2 separate regions of the Homo sapiens genome follow, and region 1 is linked to region 2. Evidence: fine-mapped expression QTL. A gene starts in region 2. The other region holds a variant in brackets. All regions are shown on one strand. Distances are from middle to middle.

Region 1 (5,369 bases), 320 kb after region 2:
TTAATTTCAGCTTCCACTTTCTGGCTCTCTGGGCCACCCTCACCACTCTTTTTTTCTTTTTTCTTTTTTTTCCAGTGCACAAACCACTCAGCCATATGCAGCACTCTGCAGGCATGAAGACTCAGAGGCAAAAAAACAAGAAGTGAAAAACTCCATTTGGCTAGAGTGGAGGCTTTCTGAAGCAGATATAAAAGTCTAAGACTTGTGCTGTCCAATATAATAGCCCCTTACCACACGTGGCTATTTAAATTTCAATGAATTAAAATTCAATACAATTGAAATATCTGTTCGTCAATTATATTATCTGCTTTTTATAGCTACCTGGACTTGATAGCTGCCAGAGTGGAAAGCACAGATAGAAAACATTTCCATTGTTGTGGAGAGTTCTATTGGACAGCTCTGGTCCAGAAAGCAAGGTGGAGCCATTGACTGTAAAAAAATTGCTCACCCTTTATGCATGCCATGGGCTATGAGGAGTCATGAAAGGGTTTTAAGCAGGGAAGTGGTGTGAAAGAAGTATAGTGCTAAGAGAAGTAATAATATCGTTTATTGAGGGATAAGTGTGTTAGGTACCTCACAAGCATGATTGCATTTAAGGCAGGTAGTATCATATCCCCATTGTACAGACAAGGAAATTGTGGCACAGTGAGGTTAAATAACTCATACAGCTCCAGGTCTGTCTGATCCCAAAAGGTTCTACCTTATACCATGCTCCTAGCCTGTACTCTAATCAACATGATGATGGGAGTGTATTATTCAAAAAAGCAGAGCTCAAGTTCAGAGAGGCCCGTTTGGCAGCCCTAGTAGGCATGAAATAATAATGACTTCAACTAGGGGGTCAAGAGCTCCCTTTGTAGCAAGCTTCAGAGGTTTCTTGTTCTTTGTTCTTGGCCTGTAGTTTCCTCCCTTCCTCCCCAACCATTAATCGCAATCGCTTTCATTTTCTTTGGAATCATCTTTGCTTATTCTTTTGCTCCTCTTGTTGGTGTTTCCAGAGAAAATTGTGTTTGCATTAGGTTTTATCCTAATAAATTTTTATCCCTGGAAGTACGTCTCCTGCCTCATCCTGCTGTTAGGCCTCTTCCTAGAGATCCCAGGACACAGCTGGAGAGCTTGTGTGGGCCCCACCATGAGCCAAGCCCACAAATCCCATCTGGAAATGTGCGTGGCAGAAGTTTCCCTCTCCTTCTAGTTTTCCTGGTGAATGGAAATGCACCAGTGTGTCCCATTTCCTGCTGGGACATGGGGCCTTTTTGTTTCTTTGGCCTCCTGGTGTTGAAGGTAAACTCCCCTGGGGAGTACTTGCAGCTTCATTGCATGGTCCAGCAAACTTTAGTTTGTGACTATTTCAGCTTTAGGTGAAGTCTGTCAAGCAATGGAGGTGGATTGGCCTTCCCTGGGTCTTATAAAGAGAATTGGTTTCTAGAATTTGGTTTTTTAGAGTATGGACAAGCAGATCCCCATTACTCTCCCCATCACCCCCGAGGAAGTCTATGAGAGGAACCCTTGAATGCTGATCTATGTGTGACAGCTGGGGAAATTGAGGCATCAAAGGAGGAGAGAATTCCACATGCATCAAAATTAAAGAACTAGAGAGAAAACCATGACATCCAGGTTGCCTGGTCATGCTTTAACCACAAACCGCACTCGCCTATTTAGTTACAACAAACACAAAAGAGATAAACATAGATGTAAGTTAGTCTAAACACCAAATTTTAGAAGTTTTTCCTCTGATGTCTAGTCAGTCATCCTGACCTTTATTGGAGGATAAACCAACTTGCAACAGCTGTGGATAATTATTTACTGTAAGTCAGAGACCAAAGGGCTTGGATAATGAAGTGAATTCGGCATTAGAAGGAGAGAGATGTGCTTTAGCACCAGAAAGTTACCTTTTAAGTTGATTCCTGAATTTCAATGATCAAGAGGTACCAAATTCACTATCTAAGAGATGCTGGAAAAGCGCAGGATGTGCTGAGCAGTGGACTTTGTTCACATGTGAGGGGTTTTACAAAAATGTACAGCCACACCTGGCCCTTCCTCAGCCTGGAATCATCCAAGAAGATACTTTGTGCAGATGCTACTGAGATGACACATCCCTTGCTGTCCATAAAAGTGATCTACAGCTGGCTGTGGTGTTACCCAGCCATCTTGGCTACTCAATAAGAAACAGATTTGGATTCCCTCACTCAGGCTGTCAGATTTTACAGCTGTCTGAGGGCCTATGGCAGTGTGGCCTCTCAGCAAGACACTGCTGAAGTGGGGCTCAAACATTTGGCAGTCAAGAGAGGGACAAAACCTTTGTATAATTTGGGAGTGAGTTCAAAGCCAATAACATTTACACTCCAGGCCAAGAAAGCATTTTAAAGCCAGCAAGGTGCCTCTAAGCCAATAAGGTGTTATTACCTTTAAGCACATCTCTTCTGCCCTTTGATAATAAGCGTTGTTTTAAAGTATTTGAAAATACCATTCACAATTTAGAACAGGATATATCACCTCCACACTTTGAACACCCAAAAAGAAAAAGAAGCCTTGATTGATGTTTATGCACTTCCATTATGGACAATCCTCCAAACACAACACAAGACATACACACACATGCACACTTCCTCATCCTCACCTGTGCTGCAAAATAATGGAATCTGGCCACCCCACATGTGGCAAGAGGAGCAGTGAGGCCAATCAAGTTCCTCTCCAGGAGCCCCATTCCTAAAGGCCAGCCAGTACAGGGAAAAATTTGTTGCAAGTGTTCCCATGCCTTGC[T/A]TAAGGTCCAGCCCCCAGGATGCTTTCCAGAGCAAGACCTCTGCTGAGAACTCTGTGTTCTAGAATTTTAATTAAACAGACCACAAAACCCACTTGCTCCCAAGTTAAATTCTAAGTCTAAACTTGAGAACAACAGAAAGTAGGGAAATGTGATCATTGGCCTGGGCAAAATGGTTGAGCACAGAATAGAGACAGTGTAAGGCAAAAACTAAGAGTACAGAGTCTAGAGCTAGGCAGCTTAGGCTCAAATCCTGGTTCTGCTGGTCATACTCCCTGGCTGTATGACCTTGGGCCCATTACTTATCTTATGAGGTTAAGTGAATCCCTGTAACTTGGAATCATGACTCAGAACTGGGGGTAACCTTGAAGACCCTCTTGTTCAACCATTATCCCATTAGACTCAGCCATGATGATGAATGAGGAGACCCAAGAATTCCCACTTCCCAGCCCTTCACCATCAGAGTGGACCATGAGGGTGTGCCAGTGGCAGAAGAAGAGGAAGGCAGGAGGTCTCCCGAATCTTTTGCCAAATACCTTAGCCTAAACTGGAAAATATCTTAGGGTTACTGGATGGACAACAGAGCTGAAAGCTCTATGCGAACCTTAGGAGGCCGATGGACAGCTAAGAAACTGCTTCTTATCCGTCTCTCTCCTTCCAGGATTCAGTCTCTGGTTTCTGGAGTGAGAACTACCATGCTACGTTCCATTGTTTCCTGTCTGAAGCATGTAGTTCACCATCGAATACATAGTCCTTTTCCAGCTGTCCTACTTGTCCAGTCTCAACTCCCATCCCACACATCCCCTCTGTCTGACCACACTGACCATCTGCTGCCTAACACGTCACACATATGCATGACTCCAGGCCTAGACATGGTTTTCCCTCTACTTGCAATGTTCTTCCCCCTTTTCAAGTCCCTACTCATTCTTCAGGATTAAGACCAATGTTACCTCTTCTGTAAGGTTTTCCTAGACAGGATCACTAATTCTAATCATAGAGAAGTCAAGTACTGCACTGAACCCTTTTTATGATTACCTCATTCATTCACTGAATCCTCACTACAATCCAATGAAATAGATTCTACTATAATCCCCATTTTAAGATGAGGAAACCAAGGCTCACAGGAGTTAAGTAAAGCCCAAGGTTACACAGCTAGTTAGGGAGAGAGCCAGTTTCAAGCCCAGCTCTAATTATTCTAGAAGCAAATTCTTCCCCCATGGGTCTCCCAGTGAACTTTATTGACTCTCCCAGTGAACTTTACTTATACTTTGGTTACATCATTTTCCCAGTTTAACTTTCTCTCCCCTACAAGATTAAAAATCAAGTTGGATGTTCGATTTATTTTTATCTCTAATACTTAGCTCACTGCTTGGCCCACAGTAGATACTTGACATAAATGTGAAAAAATGTGTTAATGGAGAAATGAATGAATAGATGAAAGGATAGAAGAGTAGAAGGAAAGAAGGAAGGAAGGAAGGAAGGAAGGAAGAAAGGAAGGAAGGGAGGGAGGGAAGGAATCAAGGAATAAAAATATTTGACTTCCTCAGAGGTACATATTATAAAACAAAGTAGCCTTTTCCAAGTACATCAAACATTATGTTCCATAGAGAAGAATTTTAATGCTGCCTGAAAAAATGTGACTAGATATTCAATACATATTTTATATTGACCCTGGGCCTTATTAATGGCAGGAAATTCAAAGGAAGTCAAGTCTATACTGTATGCACCTACTGCCAGAAATGAGGAGCCTACAAATGTTGGACAAAGCAAAAAACATCTGGGCCTGGCCATGACCTTGAGGAATGGAGATATTATGCTCTCTGAGCTTAGTCTTTTGGCTTGGAATAAAACCAAAACTAAAACCAAAAACCCCACCTCTATGTTCTTCTCATGATTTGAATGCCTTTCCCTTTGCTATGTCCTCCCTGGGAGAAGTCTCATCAACAGACTTCAAACAGGTAATCTTGCAGCTGCTACACATTCAAGTGTTTAGACTACATCTAAACTTGCTTTTTTATAACAACTTGCTTATTAGGGATGCATAAATAGATCTAGAGAAAATGAGAACAGATCTTATCTTTGGGTAAAAATATGTAAGGCACAAAACAGACTCATTAGAGAAGGTTCAGAAGTCAGGGCCTGTGGCTCAGAGTTCAAATTGGCCTGGCCAGAGCAAGCCTCCTCTCAGAACAGATGAGTCAGTGTGGTTATCACTCAGTGTTTTCAAAGCATAGAGGATGCAATCTGAGAGGCAAACGTGAGTTTCCAGATAGGGAGAGAGGAAGAATCAGGATTATGAGTGACATGTTAAAATATAATGTCGTGGTCTGCAAGGCCTAAATGCTTTGGGCAATGTTGTGTCTGGAATTTCTGTGGGACAAACCGTGTCCAGCTGTGAAGTCATTCCTAGTGGGTTTGCGACAAGAGTGTAACTCAGGGCCTTGCCTTGGTGTACCCTAAATGTGGAGAGGCTGACCGCTTGCCTAATTGAAGGCAGATGGGAGGTTGCAAAGCTGGGTAAAGAAGAAGCTTTCTGACATCTGTCTTTGACCCAAAAGGGGATAAACTCAGGCCACGTTTTAAAAAGACCCCCTGAATGATTTACATTTAC
Region 2 (5,297 bases):
GATTCCCTCTCCTTAAGGCCGCACACGCCCTGGGGGAAAGAAAGCAAGTTGGTGGGAGGCGGGAGGTGCTAAGCAGGAGCATCTGTCTCTGGCACTTGGTGGGAAGTTCACACTGCCATCTTTGCGCGCCAGGAAGGAGGCCAGGGCTGGGGAAGGGTCCAGTCGGCTAGGAAAATTAAGGAATGGGAAGGGGCTGTGGAGGGTGGAACGGCATCGCTGGAGCCTGGGCCTGCGCCCTCTGGGGTGTGGGGGTGGAGGTGGGGGAGGACTGGAGGAACAAAACAAAACAGCCACCACACCAAAACACCTAGGCCACGGATTTTTCGCCTTAAGGTCAAGTGCATGCCAATGGACGGAGAAAATTGAATAGTGTGTGTGTGTGTGTGTGTGTGTGTGTGTGCGCGCGTGTGTGTGTCTTCACCTTTGACAGCTGGAGAATGCAGACGGCGGAAAATAACTATTACGCTCCAGTGTGAGGCACTGTTTGTGGGGTGGGGCCCTCGGCGTGCTGGAGGTAGCGGACACAAATCCACCAACCCTGCCCCTCCGGAGTCCCCAAAACCACGGGCATCTGGAAGCGTCTAGAAATTCCGGTGCCCGGAACCCGGTTTTGCCAAACTTCGCAATCTCCTCACCTGAGGGCACCCGCCAAGATCTCCGTGGCAGGACCACGCATCGCGCCTCATGCTCTGGGCCGGAGCCAGATGAGCAATCATGCATCCCACTACCCAAGTCCCTACTACTCTGGGGACTTTGCAGGAGGTGAGCGCCTAACCCTATCCATCAGCCCCAGTGCTTAAGTATCCTCCCCCAGAGGTAAGAATGAGGAGGTCCCCCATGAGGTTCCATGTCAAGGCAGCAGTCTCCGTGGAGCCCCAGTGGGAGCGGTCTGGGATACGCGGGCGAGCCAAGGGGTCCAGGCGGGGAAGTTGGGGTTCAGCCTCCCGCCGGTCGGTGGCTCTGGAAGGAGCGCAGACAACCAGGCGGCAGGCAGGCAGCGGCTGCGGAGTGGACCTCTCTCTTTCAGCAGATGCCGCGGGGGATGGGGAACTTAGAGAAGGGGAGACAAGGAGAGTGTACCCCGCCTCCCGGCACCCCAGCCCGTAGTACGGCTTTAAAATCCTGCAGAGTTTGTCATAGGCCGGCCTCACCACGCATGCGCATAGCAAAGTTGAGTTTTTTCTTTCTTCCCCCCCCTTCCCTCTCTCTTTCCAGCCGCCCCTAGTTCTGAAACTTTAAAGAACTTTTTTCTTTCTTTCTTTCTTTCTTTTTTTTTTTTTCTTCCTTCTGAGAACACCAGGGGAAAGAGGAGTCTGGAGAGAGGGAGGGAGAGAGTAAGGCAGTTGGCCAGAAGGGCTGGGGGGTGGGAGGGGGGGACGCGTCCCCGCGGTCGGTCAGTCTGTTTGCGGGGCACAGGATCGCGTGGAAATCTGCTGCGAGCTCCACGGAGCCGCCTCCGCCGCCCAGAGCCGGGGTCCGTGCGGCAGCTGCCCAGCGAGCCCTTCCGCCGCCGCCGTTGTGCCCGGGACCGCCCGCCTCCCGCCGGCCCGCTCTCCCGCCCCTCGGACCCGGGCGCCAAACGAGGAGGTGGGCAGCTTCGCCGGCCATGGACCGCCGGAGCTGAGTCGCCGCCGCGGAGCTCCGAGCTCTCGCCCTTCCCCAGCCTCGCGCCCGCGGTGCACTCGCTGCTCTTCGCCCTTCGCCCTGGAAAAACGGGGAAAAGAGAGATCAACCCGAAGAGAGAAAGAACGGGATACGTGGTGGGGGGGGGGAGCCCGCGTCTCCCCTGGGTTAGTCGCACCCCTCCAGCTCACCGCACAGCAATAAGTTCCGGGGCGACTTTCACCTATTTTGCTCCCCGTTTTTGCCGAACCCTAAAATGAAAGGACACAATTTGGGGCTGACTCTTGCAGCTCAGATGGCGACTTGTGCGTTTTCAGCGGCATCTCCCGGAGAAAAAGCCATGCGCGCCTGATTGTTCTGTGGCCCCAAAGCTGCAGCGGGGGTGTGTGTGTTGGGGTGTGTGTCTGTGTGTGTACAGAGACGTCCACACTAACTCGCGGCTGCAGGATCAGCGTCTGGAAGCAGACGTTTCGGCTACAGACCCAGAGAGGAGGAGCTGGAGATCAGGAGGCGTGAGCCGCCAAGAGTTTGCAGAATCTGTGGTGTGAATGAACTGGGGGCACCTGGGCGCACAGATCGCCCCCCTTCCCCCGCCCCGGGCCACAGTTGAGTAGTGGTACATTTTTTTCACCCTCTTGTGAAGAATTTCTTTTTATTATTATTTGTCGTAAGGTCTTTTGCACAATCACGCCCACATTTGGGGTTGGAAAGCCCTAATTACCGCCGTCGCTGATGGACGTTGGAAACGGAGCGCCTCTCCGTGGAACAGTTGCCTGCGCGCCCTCGCCGGACCGGCGGCTCCCTAGTTGCGCCCCGACCAGGCCCTGCCCTTGCTGCCGGCTCGCGCGCGTCCGCGCCCCCTCCATTCCTGGGCGCATCCCAGCTCTGCCCCAACTCGGGAGTCCAGGCCCGGGCGCCAGTGCCCGCTTCAGCTCCGGTTCACTGCGCCCGCCGGACGCGCGCCGGAGGACTCCGCAGCCCTGCTCCTGACCGTCCCCCCAGGCTTAACCCGGTCGCTCCGCTCGGATTCCTCGGCTGCGCTCGCTCGGGTGGCGACTTCCTCCCCGCGCCCCCTCCCCCTCGCCATGAAGGTAGGTGTTCAGTGCGCTGCCACTTTTTTTCTTTACTTCCCCCCACCCCCTGTTGGAAGTTAACTGAGTTCCCTTCGCCTCTTCCTATCCCTCCATTTCCCCAACCGCCTGAAGAAGCTGGAACTCCAGCGTCGCTGGCAGGAACCCCTACCCCTTCGCCCTCCACGCCGGGCGCACTGCCTCAGTGTCCCAGGAGATCACTTCTGGTCGCACCACCCGTTCTGCAAACAATTTTGATTTTTGAGAAAAAGTGGGGAAGAGCGATAGTAGACAAACTGAGTGCGGTTCACTGACGACTTTCCTTTTGCTCTGAGAACATCGAGTGTAATTTACTATGTATATTTCAGTAACAGGATAATGATTCAATTCAACAAATATTTACCAAGCGCCCACTGCGCGGGCACCGGGACGGTGTGTGGCCGGGGCTCGGGATGGGGAAAGGGACTCCTTGGTTGAGAGAACCCGCAGAGGAACTAGGGGCCAACTACTCCAGAGCGGCGTACACCTTCCCCGACACCCCCCCGCACCGACGGAGGCCAGATTGTAGGCTTGCCTTGGCCGAGTAACTCGAGCGCTTCAGGCCCCTTTGCCTTTAAGAGTGCCTGGCGGGGGGCCAGCGCGCACCCCGGCGCGGGGAGCGGGGTCGCGTTATTAGCATTATTAGCCGCCACTGGGTGAGCTCAGGCACTTTGCAGCAGTGGTGGGGGCGGGGAGTTGTGGTGGTAGTGGCTGTAATCCCGTACTCCGGGACAGCGCTCCCCGGCCCCCTGAGCGGAGTCCGCCTTGTCCTTTAGAAAACACTTGGGCCTCCGCTTTGGGAGAGCAGGCGGGGGCCAGTTTGCGAACTCTTGTTTGTTTTAATTGTCAGTTGTATGTTAAAGCCGAATCACACACTCCGAGGGTCACTGAGAGTTCACTTTTACGAAAAGTTAACGTTTCTTCCTGCAACATAAGTTTTTATTTTCTAAACAATTTTTCTTATCTGTCCTCCAAGCTTCGATTCCTATTTCCATTTTTCTGGTCTTTCCCATTTTAAGTTTCTTAGAAAATAAGGTTAGAATTGAAATTAAGATGTTTCCTGGAAGCAAATAACCCCTCTTCCCCCCAAAAAGTTAAAAAAAACAACAACAAAAAACTTCAAGTCTGGAGACCCCACGGCCCTGTTTGACTTTCTAATCCCTGTCTGGTATCGAGGCCCCTTCTCCTCTCTCGCCTCTCTTTTCTCTCTTCTCTCTTTAAATGGGTAATTCGCTGTTTGGAAGTAACTTGGGCCTTGCGGTGAGGTCGCACCTCCTCAGCCCCTGCCCTCCCCCCAGCCACCTTCGCACATTCACTGCCGAACCAGCCAGATTTAGTTTCTAGACAGACTCTGCCAGGGGAGTTTCGAGGGGGCAATGCGGAGAGTGCGCAGCGAACCGCGGGCCGACAAATGTGTGTGTGTCCGAGTGTGTGGATCCTTGGCTGCGTGTGTGTGCGTGTGTGTTTGTGTGTGTAGGGGAGTTGTTCTCGGGTCCAGGACGTAGTAGCCTTCGTCTCCTCCACCCCCCGACCCTCTCAACGGAAGACCCTCCCCAGGAGGCCCGGCCCAAGAGTCCCCTGTCTTCTCCTCCCCTCCCCCGTGCGCTCCGGTGCTCAAGGGGTTAGCACTATGCGCGCAGAACTCGGAGCCATCCCCGCGGCCTTTTCTTCCCCGCGGTGCGGTGCCGGCTGCCCCCTGTTGGCCGCCTTGAGGTAGGACTCCTGCGAGCCTCGGTTCCTTGGGGCGGGCGGGCGGGCAGCTGCTCCCCTCTCCCTCCCACCCCTGCTCCCTTCATCCCTCCCGACCACCAGACCCCACTCTCCCAGCAGGGGCCCTCGGAGGCCCCCAGAGGACCAGTTTCGCTGCGCCGCCGGCCGCTGCAATACGGAAGGGGCCACGGGTCCAGCCCAGCAAATGGGACTCGGCCAGCTGGACACAGGGTTGGTACCTCTTCTTCTGGGCTTGGGAAGGAGAGTGTCGCCCTAGGAGGCCTCGGGTCTGGCCTCAGCTGCCTCCCAACTCTCTATGATCGAGAACAAGTGTTGCTTTCCCGCTTTTCGCCTCACTTTAATCGTCTATTAAAAAGTGGGAGAGAAACTACCTTTAAAGAGTGGGGGTTGGACTATCATTTCATTTTCTTCCTCTGTCCAAGGACTCTGCTCCACCTCTGGACAAAGTTGATCCTCTGCCGAGAGGGCTAGACATCCTATGTGAGAAGGTGTGAGTGGTGTGTGTGTGTGTGTGTGTGTGTGTGTGTGTGTGTGTGTGTGTGTGTATCCTGGGGCCTGGAAAGCCCAGTCTAAGGGATGGACGAGGGGGCAGGAAACAGAGGAGAACCAGGCCAGACCGTTCTTCCCCTGGGGCCTCTCTATACCCGAACCTGGAACCTGCTGTCAGTGTTGAGGCCTGGGCGGCTCTCTTTTGTCATACTGATTCTGGCTCAAGGTGTAACCTCCGCCTTCTCTATCTGGCAATTCCCTCCTCCCCTACCCCGCTCCGCGCGCGCCAACACACATATTGCTGTGGACACAACCCTTGCGCCCAGGCGTGAGGCTTAGGGAGTA

The links.
Region 1: its variant is fine-mapped to the expression of WNT5A in fibroblasts (GTEx, PIP above 0.99).

The regions. Positions count from the first base shown.
Region 1 is chr3:55,161,824-55,167,192 of GRCh38, reverse strand. The region is part of intron 2 of LOC124906243 (a long non-coding RNA gene); the gene reads left to right. Among named protein-coding and RNA genes, the nearest start is that of LINC02017, 14 kb to the left of the region's middle. The variant T/A (reference allele first, on the strand shown) is at 2,761.
Region 2 is chr3:55,484,397-55,489,693 of GRCh38, reverse strand. WNT5A (Wnt family member 5A) reads left to right here and starts at 2,388. Exons shown (of 5, transcript NM_003392.7): 1 at 2,388-2,714. The coding sequence starts at 2,709. WNT5A-AS1 (WNT5A antisense RNA 1) reads right to left here and starts at 2,076. Exons shown (of 2, transcript NR_046656.1): 1 at 1,815-2,076; 2 at 1,386-1,704. RefSeq lists enhancers at 1-253, 254-764.